2 separate regions of the Homo sapiens genome follow, and region 2 is linked to region 1. Evidence: fine-mapped expression QTL. A gene starts in region 1. The other region holds a variant in brackets. All regions are shown on one strand. Distances are between the middles of the regions.

Evidence for each region. PIP is the estimated chance that this variant, and not a neighbour inherited with it, causes the effect.
Region 2: its variant is the best candidate, but not a certain one, in a credible set for the expression of PSMD6-AS2 in adrenal gland (GTEx, PIP 0.70).

Annotation. Positions count from the first base shown.
Region 1 is chr3:64,001,950-64,007,266 of GRCh38, reverse strand. It overlaps PSMD6-AS2 (PSMD6 antisense RNA 2), which reads right to left and starts at 3,245. Exons shown (of 3, transcript NR_038286.1): 1 at 1,199-3,245. It overlaps ATXN7 (ataxin 7), which reads right to left. Exons shown (of 13, transcript NM_001377405.1): 13 at 3,805-5,317.
Region 2 is chr3:64,059,845-64,065,230 of GRCh38, reverse strand. No RefSeq gene overlaps it. Among named protein-coding and RNA genes, the nearest start is that of PRICKLE2-AS1, 5.4 kb to the left of the region's middle. RefSeq lists enhancers at 1,118-1,941, 792-1,991. The variant A/G (reference allele first, on the strand shown) is at 2,610.

The sequences.
Region 1 (5,317 bases):
ATGATGAGCCTTTAATCCAACCATTATATATCCCCTTTCCATCCTTAGATCCCTTGAAGAGACCATTTAGTTAAGACTACCAACAGGTGACACCCTGACCTCCTTACCAACCTTGCCTTTTAGAGGTGACCAGAGACCTGTGCTTTTCCAAAGTACTGTTATACGTGTAATTAGTATAATATCAATGTGGGGAAACTCTACCTTTGGATTTTGAGGACTCTGCTTTTCTTGAAACCCTCTGGGTTAGAGACTGTTTATTCATATGCACCTCAGGAACTTGAGGCCAAGATGAAGTTCACTGTTTCCTAGTCCTTTGCTTGTTCTCCTGGCCATTATGTTTCCACCTTCATTCAAAATGCCTTCTCTTTGAAGCTGCTTATAACCCAGCAACACCATCAACTCACTGTGCTCACTGTCCTCAATCACACATCTCCAAGTCACTCTCCCCTCTTCCATGCAAATCATCCCAGAACCAAGCAACCCTAATTTGAAATGGACAACCTATACAACACCCTTGGCTTCACAGTTCCTCAGCCTGAATTCCAGTGCTCTTTTCCTCCATGCTGCTTCTGTCCACTGCCATGGTTTCCACCCAGGAATCACAAGCACCTCTGGCCAGTTCTGCTTTTGAAAATAATACTGGAATTCCAATTCCTCTGGCCAGTTCTGCTTTTGAAAGTAATACTGGAATTCCAATTCCTCCATTCCCTGTCCTATTCCTAAAAGTGCTGTATCACTTTGATAACTCTGGCCCCTGGATCTCACCTTGTAGCCCCTCACTTTTATTGGCCATGTGGAATTAAATGTGGACTTTGCTCTGTGACCCTGAACAAATCAATTGTCTAATCATAGAAAAAGTTACCTGGAAGGAGATTCCTAAGACCTAACAAGAAGATAATTCCAGTCAAACCAATGTCTTAAGAGCACCTGCATAGATTCTACATGGTTGGCTTCTAGTTCTCTTCCCTGAATACCCAGTTCAGACCATCATCAATCACTCAGCCACATCTTCACTCTTTGGCAATCTCCCTGCTCAAGTTCTATCTTTTCCACCCAACCAATACATGCTGTTCCAATTATCCTGGAGAAAACAGCAGGGCAATAAAACGTTAACTAAATAGGTAGATAGCATTGGTAATTATAATGGGATTGACTCAAAACATCTAACCCTGTAAACCATCTCAATGCCTTCCCTTACCTCTCTTTTTACTCTACTGCTCCTTCTCCATTTGTCTTCATGAAAATAGTCTTCTCCAAGGTTTTGTCCTGGGTTTTCTCTCTGGGCCATGGAGGATGGGCTTCAGGTTTGTGATATCCTGGAAGCGGAATATAAAAATGTGGTGTGCCTGTGCCTCGGTCAGACAGGATGCATAACTTCATGTGACTCCTGGAGTCTGAGGAGGGAAAAAATTAAGAATCACTGTTCTGACAGACCTGAATTACCCTGGATCTGCCACCTATTCGTTGTGGGACCTTAAGCAAGATACCTTCTTAGGAGTTCCAATCAGTATGATTGGAATCAAAATACCTGCCCTATGAGGGCTTAGTAAAAGAGAGGATGTATATAAAATGCTTGGCACAGTATCTGGCATATTAAGTACTTCACTAGAGAAGTATTATTTTAACATAATAATAAGCCAAATCGAATAGCTACTTAATTTTCCCAGGTAAACTCCATCTACCCTTATGACCTCACTGATGATCTAAAACTGAAAGACAACTCTCCATCTTTATTTTCCAGCTCAAACCTCCCTCCTAAAGTCCAACCAGCCTGTACAGCCAGCTGGGCACTAAACCAGAATTTCCCACCAGCAGCTCAAATCTATCGTTATGTCTTTTTCCTTCTCTGTTACCATATCGCACATTTCACTTAAAGCTCAATTGGTTTGGCCAAGCTAGAAACCTGAAGTCTTCTTAGACTCACTCTTCCCTTTAATGTTGAACAGAGTTAGACCTCAAGGCTTGTTGGTTCTACTTTTTAAAGATTTCTGAAATCAGTATCACTTATCCTCACAGTCAGCCTTCGTTTGGAAACTTAATAGCTCTTACCTGGATTACAACAGCTTTGTAACTTATTTTTGTCCCAAGGTTCTCACCTGTTGATTCTGTCTTCCATTGTTATTGGAGGGCCATAGGTGGCAGAGATGTTTTTTCCACAAAGTATTAAATTATAAGTGATTCTCCCCTTCCCCCTGGAGACTTTTTCTTTGGCTGATAGCCTCACTCTCCCTTACCTCCTAAGAGATATTCTGGTCCATGGTCTTTGGATGTAGAAAATGAGGATAACAAGTGCCAAGAATTACAGCCTTACAAGGTGAAATACTACTTTAATTAACTTCCATTAACAACAGGAGCAAGAACTTCTTACAGAAAGAGGAGACTAAGAAAGGAGTGAGAAGGGAGAGGAACTTAAGAGTTGATTTAGGGGAGTGCTTTTTGTTAGGACTGGGGACAGGGGCAGGTAAAGACAGATCTTTGAAGCAAAAGAGAGTGAGAATGCAAGACATGGGGAAAGAGACTTAAGTGCTCCTTTGCTTTTCCACAGTTTTCAGTACAGATTTGAATGGCTTTGACTTTTGGCAGCTGCACAGTGCTAGGACTGGACCATGAAATATCTCTGGGCTCTGACAATTACATTTGGGTTAATCTAAGCCTGATCCCATGTGTTCCTGGAAGAGAAGCCCCATGACATTCAAAGTCCTTGACAATCTGACACCAGCTTTTCTAACCCTATAAGGCCCTTCCATCCAGCAAACTTCCTGCAGAATTATTCTCTATCCCTCACATGTTCATACCCATGCTCGACGCATTTGCTCTCTCTGCCTAGAATCTTACTCTTGTCTGCCTTTCTGCCTGGTTAAATCCCACATACGCCAAGATCCAACACTGCTAAACCCCTTTCCTTGAGTTGGGATCATCTTGTTATGCAGGGCCGGGATACCTGCAAGGGAATGGAATTAAAAAGGTTAAGAGATTGAGCAGTTGAACCTTTTCTTGGGAGGTTTGAGGACAAGCCATAGTGAAAGGATTTACCTACAGAGAGCACCTCATTATTAGATTTGTGGAAAGTACTGAGTGGATGGTTGACTCAAGTAAGGAGGGAATGGGAAGTCCACAGGGCAGTAGGAACTGAAGCCAACATGACTCTTTCATATCAGGTATGGACATTCTTGCTAACACACAGCGGTTCCTCCTCTTATTTTAAGCAACAAAAATAATTTATCAGAATGGTTTATTTGCAAACAGTAAAAATGTCTGGATTTCTAGAGGTAAATGATTATGCTGTGTTCCAAATAATACTAAAATGCACTTGTATTGCCAGTAAGGGAGGTATGTAAAAGAAAGGAAGAGATTAGACCGGGTCTGGATAAAAAGCTTATCTTAAACCAAAACTACATGTCATCAAATTTGCACCTAAGTACAAATAGAATGTGTTTCTCAATCCATCAACTCCCTCGTTTCTTTCACAAACATGCAAGGCCAGAATACAGTAATGTTCACTGTTTACACAGTTACTAATTTATCCAAAGCAAAGCTTTGTGCCCCCAGATGGAAACATCCCCAGGCCTTAGAAGTATTTAGCTTATATAAGAGGAAGGCTAAATTGAAGGGGCTTCACAAGGGTGTTCCATGCCAAAAGTGATGAAAAGTCAGAGTAGACTGAAAGGGTTTAGTATCACAACGAGGCAGAAACGTACAATATTTCATGCAGCCAACCTTATTTATTGAGAAGTCCTAATTTTATTGCCCGTTTAGTAACATGTTTGTTCCACAAGCTAATTTCTTATAAAGCAAAGCACAACCTTTTCTTATAAATAGTATAAATTATTTTATTTACAGAAACTTGTTACAAAACAAATAGACTATATATTTCTTCTCTTTTAAATATCCAAAGTAATTTTCTATCCCTTGACATTTGTTCATGTTCTATACAGCAGCCAACACAAAGTCCAGCTGAGATGCTCTTGATTATGTGTACAAATTATCAAACTATTCACACGTTTTTAACACAGGAGATTGCTTTTATAACCAAGCTCAAAAAAAAAAAAAAAAAAAAAAAAGCAAAATGCTTTCAAGGCCCTACATTCACACTGACAGTATGTAGTGCTCATTTAAATTATCTGAAAATGTAAAATGTTTTGCACAAAATGTAAAAGTGATTATTTTCTGCTAAACAAACTTTTAAGAATATTTTTTCAAAGCCCAATCGCCCCAAACCCCCTGGACAGAATGAGCGACATTAAGAAATTCCTTGGCAACAGAACTCTTGCAGGAAGACAGCTGCCCTTATAAGTTACATTTTTCAAATTATACATTTTTTTCAATGTTCTCAGAGGTACTTCTTTGTATTATATTTTTGGAATACAAAATATTTTAAATATTTTAAATTGTATTTCATGAGTGAATAACAAAACGGACACATCGTGTAAGTTGCTGGCTGACAAAAAGATCTGTAACCCTTGGTGCCACCAGGCAATCCATCACCAATTGAATTACTATGAACCAAGAGGTCTTAATTTTAAAATACCTTATAAAATTACCAGCATTGGTGGTTTTCAACTCCGCCCCTAAAATTTTAGAAACAATATTTAGGTGGAAAAAGCAAACTCCAAAAGTTCAACTGAACATTCAAGTCTTTTTAAAGAGATTCTGTCTAAGCTTAAAACTAGTTTCAGGCACTTTCAGTTTTTTCCATTAGTTTTAAACCACATCACATAGTAACATACATGTGCTGAGTATACACACACACGCACAGGCACACACACACGCAGTCACATACTCCCACACATAAAATACTAACAAAAGAAAAGCAGTGTGTCACTTAGTTACATGTAGTCTATCGGGAAACCAGGCAACCAGGAAGAAGCAATGCCCACTTCATCTGTATGAATCCACTCCCGAGACACTAAAAGGGACAAAGACTTTTCACAGAACAGAGGCATCCCTTAAAACTGTAAAGGAGGCAGGTTCTAGAACTATTGGCTTGGCAGTGAACCACTTCAAATTATAAAAAGGTATTTACTTTTATTAATTAATAAATAAATACTAGATGATCTCAATTGTACCAAAACAGGATATCAGAAAAAAAGACCTGTGCAAAAATACATATTTAAATATGTACAATTCATTTTTAACAAAATATGTCTTCTGAAATAGGGATACTTCCATATTTATAATAGAACAAGAAATTCCAAAATAAAGATACAAAAGTAGGTTTTGTATAATTCTTTGTTCATCATTGCAGCACTTTTTTTTTTTTTTTGTAGGTTAAGAAAACTGCAGGAGTTGTCATGAAATTCTATTGGAAAGAATATAA
Region 2 (5,386 bases), 58 kb before region 1:
CTACCAGCCAACTGTCTTTGGACTCTGACTGCAACTCTTCCCTGGGTCTCTAGCCTGTGGCCAGTCCTGTAGATTTTAAACTTAACCAAGCCTTCACAACTGCACGAGTCAATTCCTTGATCAACCCATCTCTCTATCTATCTATTTATCTGTACTTCCTGTTGGTTCTGTTTCTGTGGAGAACCCGGACTAATACCCCATGGATTATTATGCACCTATGAGTTGGCTCTATACCTAGGAACCTGGAGGGATTTATATGATGCATTATTAAATGGAAGAAGCAAGATGTGGAGATACATGTTGTAAGAGAAGCAGTGGCCAAAAATGTGCTTGTTTCTATTGGCATAGAGAAAGATAGGAAAGAAAACATGACAAGTTTTAACAGTGGTTATCTGGAAGGGGTGTAGGGAGGTAAAAAGAAACAATTGAAATACAAAAATATTAATCAGATAATGCTGATGAAAATTGTAGAATATTAAATCCTCCGATATTATTAAAAGTAAGAAAGTACTAAATATACCTATGGGGGGGGATTAGAAGTTAAAAATGGAAAAAAATTTTAAATTGATATGCTTTGGGATTGGGATTTGGGGACACTCTTTTTCTTGGATATCTGATACTTCAATATTATAATAATTAAAATATATGTATTCCTGGGTATGACCCCAACAATTCAGATTTTGTAAGGTGAGCAGGGGTCTGGGAGTGTGAGAATTAGTACTTTTTAAATAAAGGCCCCCAGAGTAATTCTTGATGCATCACTGAGTTTGGGAACTGCTAATTCAATAATTATTCTTTCAAGCTAGGACACACTTGATTTTTCCCTGGAAACAATTAGTGAAGGAGGGCCATCAGTGTGAACAGGAGAGAAGTCCCAGAGCCTTGCTTAGCCCCATAGCTGAGTGGCCTGCCCCTGAGTCCCCCCTACACCCCTGAAAAGGTCTGATGATCTGGCCTTCCTGAGGGACAGGGAAACAGGGGTGGTCAGACCGCAGGTGCAGGCCATTCTCTGCTCCCACAACTCCACAGTCATATCCATTCACTTGCCATTGCTCTTTCAACTGCCAACTTTTGTTTTAGAAATGCAGACATTTATATGGCACTGTATAGTGACTTCATGTATCTTATCTCATTGGATCCTCCCTCGTTCCTGACAAGGTGGATAGAGAGCTGTTGTTGCTATTGTCTCTGTCTACAAGTGGTGACAATGAGTCTTGGAAACTAGTTAGATGACCTCTTTTGACCCAACTATTTCATGGAAGAGATAGAACCTCGAACCCCAAGTCTGCCTTTCAAATTTCTTTTTTCCCATTCCACCCACCACATGGCCTTCTCACCTTATTTAAATTGTTTGCTGAAGGACATCCTCTTTCACATTCCTTAAATATCCAGCCTTTAATCTTCGATGATTAGATGTGAAAAACATTTTCTTATGATTGACATAGGATTTGACGCATGCTGTTTTATCTTTGTGTTTGCTTTCTTTGTTAGCTGTTTCGCATCTGCTTTTGTTAGTCATTCCATGTGGGGGGTTAACTTTATACTGTATTCATCACAGATAATTCAGGGTAGAGTTTTACAAACATGTTTGGGACAATGCAAACTGAAATTGGCAAGATGTACTTTCCCCCTAAGTAGAAACTATTGTTCCCTTGACGGGATGGTTTGTCTTTTTCATTCCAAGGACACTTGAACAATGAGTTTGAAAGCTGCTTCCCAGGAGGCAGAACAAACAACACCACACCTGAGAATTAAAGCAGAAAAGCATCTTGAAATATGTGATAAGAGTGTAGTCCTCCAGTTAAGGAAAACTTTCCTAGTTTTAAAAAATATGCAACATGGAGTAGAGTCAGGTCCACAGGCAGCAGCAGGAGCATATCATCACTGCTAGCAGAATGCTCTGGTAACTGGATTTTTGTTCCTGATAAAATGAGAAGGTCTGTTTTTTGATCATGGAAACATTTTTCCAAAAGAAACCCAAATATATTTTCAAAGTATTTCCCAAGTGTCAGCAACTATTAAGTAGAAAACACTCATTAGTTAACAGACTAGAGGAAAAAAGGGGCTTCAAGTCAGGGCACTCACTGGTCAATTTTGAAGATCCACAGTGTTTTGATTAAGAGCCAATGAATTATGCAATAGGTTTATTATCCAAGGTAGAATCAAGAAGTTGAAAAATTCCTGTATGAACTGCGAGGACAACTGATTTAGTGAGCAATCTGTCTGAGAACCAAATTCCTTCTGCTTAGCTCAAAGTGCACTTGACTCTGACCTTTAGTTCATGGAGGGTCGTTGTGGAGACTGATACTGAGTTTCATTAATGCATCAGTCTCAGCTAGTCTCAGTAAGTATCCTTTCTTATCATCCTGGAACTTCAACATCCTGGTGGGATGTGTTTCCTTAGTAACTTGGGGAACTAGAGCCACCCCACTTCCTTTCCTCTCTCCTAAAAATCAAAAGCCTTGATTTTCTGCCTTGATCGTTTTTTTTTTTTTTAATGCCACATCCAAGAAAAAAGTTGAAGAAAACATCAGCATGGCATAGGCTGGTGTCATTTGCGAAAGAGCTGGTGACCTAGAGATAGGGCTGGAGGCCATTCTAGAGGCGAA[A/G]TAAAGCCTATCTTGTTGTCAAGAGGATGGAATAGCCTTGTCTTAGTAAGAAGTGAGATGCCACAGTATTATATGAGAGAGAGAGAGAGTGCAGAAAGGGCTTTTATTCATCTGATCCATAGTGATTGTTCCTTTAGCCTCTTATCTTCCCACTGCTTACTGGCATCAACCACTTGAATTAAGTAATCCAGACGCCTGGCCAGCCCACCTCTTTGAAGGGCACTGAAAAAGATCCCAGCTTCATTTCTGTATTATCTTCATAAGGCAGACAGGGAGATACCCTCTTGCCATTTCCTTTAGATTAGTAAAAAGAGCCCTCTGAATCCGAGGGTTTCTGCCCAAGTGAACAATGGACCACCCTAAAAAGGAGGGAAACGAAGGTCTTTGGAGTTATATCAAAATAGAACTGACTAAAATTAAAATTCCAAGGCAAACAGTTTTGCTATCAAACAAGTTGTCATAAATGTTTCATCACTGACTTTCCCAAAGCTCTGGCATTAAACATTAATACACAAACAACTGAAATGTGCCCACTTTTAGCATGGGCTCTAGTCTTCCTCTTTCCTCCTCCAATCAGGAATAAATAAAAGGCAGCATCAGGTTTTGCGTTAGTGTTTGTCAAATGCTTTGAAGTATGTGATAATGCCGTAATAACGCCATGGGTGGCAATGGTATTCTTTTGCCCATTATGCAGATGAAGTTAGTGAGCCAAAAAGAGTCTTAAAGTATTTGCTCACAGTTGCTCCAACAGCATTCAAAGAACTGGCATTTGCACCTCTTCCTTTTCTCAGACTGGTCAGTTACATTATGGTTCATCCAAATTTTGGGGAACTGTTGCAGCTGTTTTTTAAAAACGAGATGCCTCCATGGTGCACTAATGCAAGGAAATTGCCACAATACTGAGCAAATATTGTGAAGCCGCAAGTATGTGTGTTCATGTACATGTGATGAATAGAGAGAGTTCTGGAACTGTGCACACACACAGTTGGTGACAGTGTTTACTTCCATGGTGGTGTGTATGATGGGGGTGGACTGCCTTCATTATTTACTTCATATACTCATGTATTATTTAACTTTTTAATGACAAGGGTATGCTATGTTTGTCATAAACTTTCCCTTTACTCAAGATATATAACCGAAACATCCTTCCTATCTCAAATCTTTTTGCTCTCTCCAATTCTGCAGACCTGTGAGAAGCAAGAAGAATATTGTTATTCTCCATATTCAAATTAATCCATGACAATAAACACTGATGCATATAACCAGTGCCCCATAATATACCAACCACACTTACTGTCATGAGAGGCAGTCCATGAACTTAAAACAAGGAACTAACAAACACTGTCTCCTTTGTAGGTGCCAGACACTTTCCCATGTTAGCCAATTTGAGCCACTCACTACCTGTGCAGAGGAGGAGTAGTTAGCTCTGGTTCTATAGACGATAAATCCAGAACTCAGAGTAACAATAACATGCCCATGTTCACACACAAATACATGGCAGAGCTGCACTAGTGCCTGTTCCACACCACGATGCCTCCTGGAAGTCAACTTGGTAAAATCATTTTTCAGTGAAACATAAGATTCAGGATAATGATTTTTGGGGTTTTTATTTCTGTTTTTATGAGACCATTGAGTTTCATTCCTCTTGGCAATAATCTATATGACCTTAGCTTATCACAATAAAGAAGCCCCATGGGAGGAAAAGAGGGGCCATTGGTTAGTGTGATTTTGTTCAATATAAATCATCAATTTTATGAGCTAAATATAATTTTTGATAGCACAGACATTTTGAATTAGAATTGATGATTGAGGCTTTGACAGCATCTCAAGCTACCTCTTAACCCCATAATGTCCATTCATACATTATTGACTCCCATGGTCCTTTCCCTTTGTCCAGCCCACCTCTCAATGCAGGGACATGAAGGCTCCCATCTTGCGAGCATCAGATAGGTTGCAACTCATGAAGCATCTTTGTTCCCAGATAGTACTGTACTTTCCCTCCACCCTCAAGGGTCACAGTAACAAACGTCAACTGGGAAAAGAAATCCATTTAGTTTTTATTAAGCTGCTTGACTTTTCCAGGGGTCTTTAACTTCCATCTTGGTTAAATGGTAACTGGACACTGAAGAAATAGCCTCAACTCTCTCAAGTAAGTCCAAAGGTTTGTTAAGGACCAGAAAAAATTAAAAATCCCAGAAGGGAAGGTCACCAAAATATTAACAGTGCTTCTGTGAAGTGACAAGATTGAAGTTCTTTTTTTAGTTCTTGCTTTACACTTTTCTGTTTTTTTCCAGATTTTCTACAACAAACATGTATTCACGTTTTAATCACAATAAAATGTTATATATTTTTTTAATTCTGAAAAGCATGATGTGAGAAGCTTTACATGCAGTATTATCCTAGTTCTGTAACCATGTGCTTACAAAATTACTGGGGAGAAATAAGCCAAAATGTTTACAATGTCTGTTCCTAAGTGAAGGCATTATGGTTGATTTTTTTCTTTATATTTTTATGTGTGTTTCAAATTCTCTCTAAAGAGCCTACAGAGGATTTATAACCTTAAATAATGAATGTATTTTTAAAGCCTTGAAATTTGAGGAGGAGTGTGAGAAGGGGAGATTCTATGAAATTCCACAATGTTGTTACTATTCCTGTAGTAATGACATATGCCCTTAATTCCTGGAATAGCTGAGATTTCTCCAAAATGCCTAATTTATACTTGGAGAATAATATATCCATCTTTTAGGATCTGGGCCCCAAATACTCTAATTTCTCCT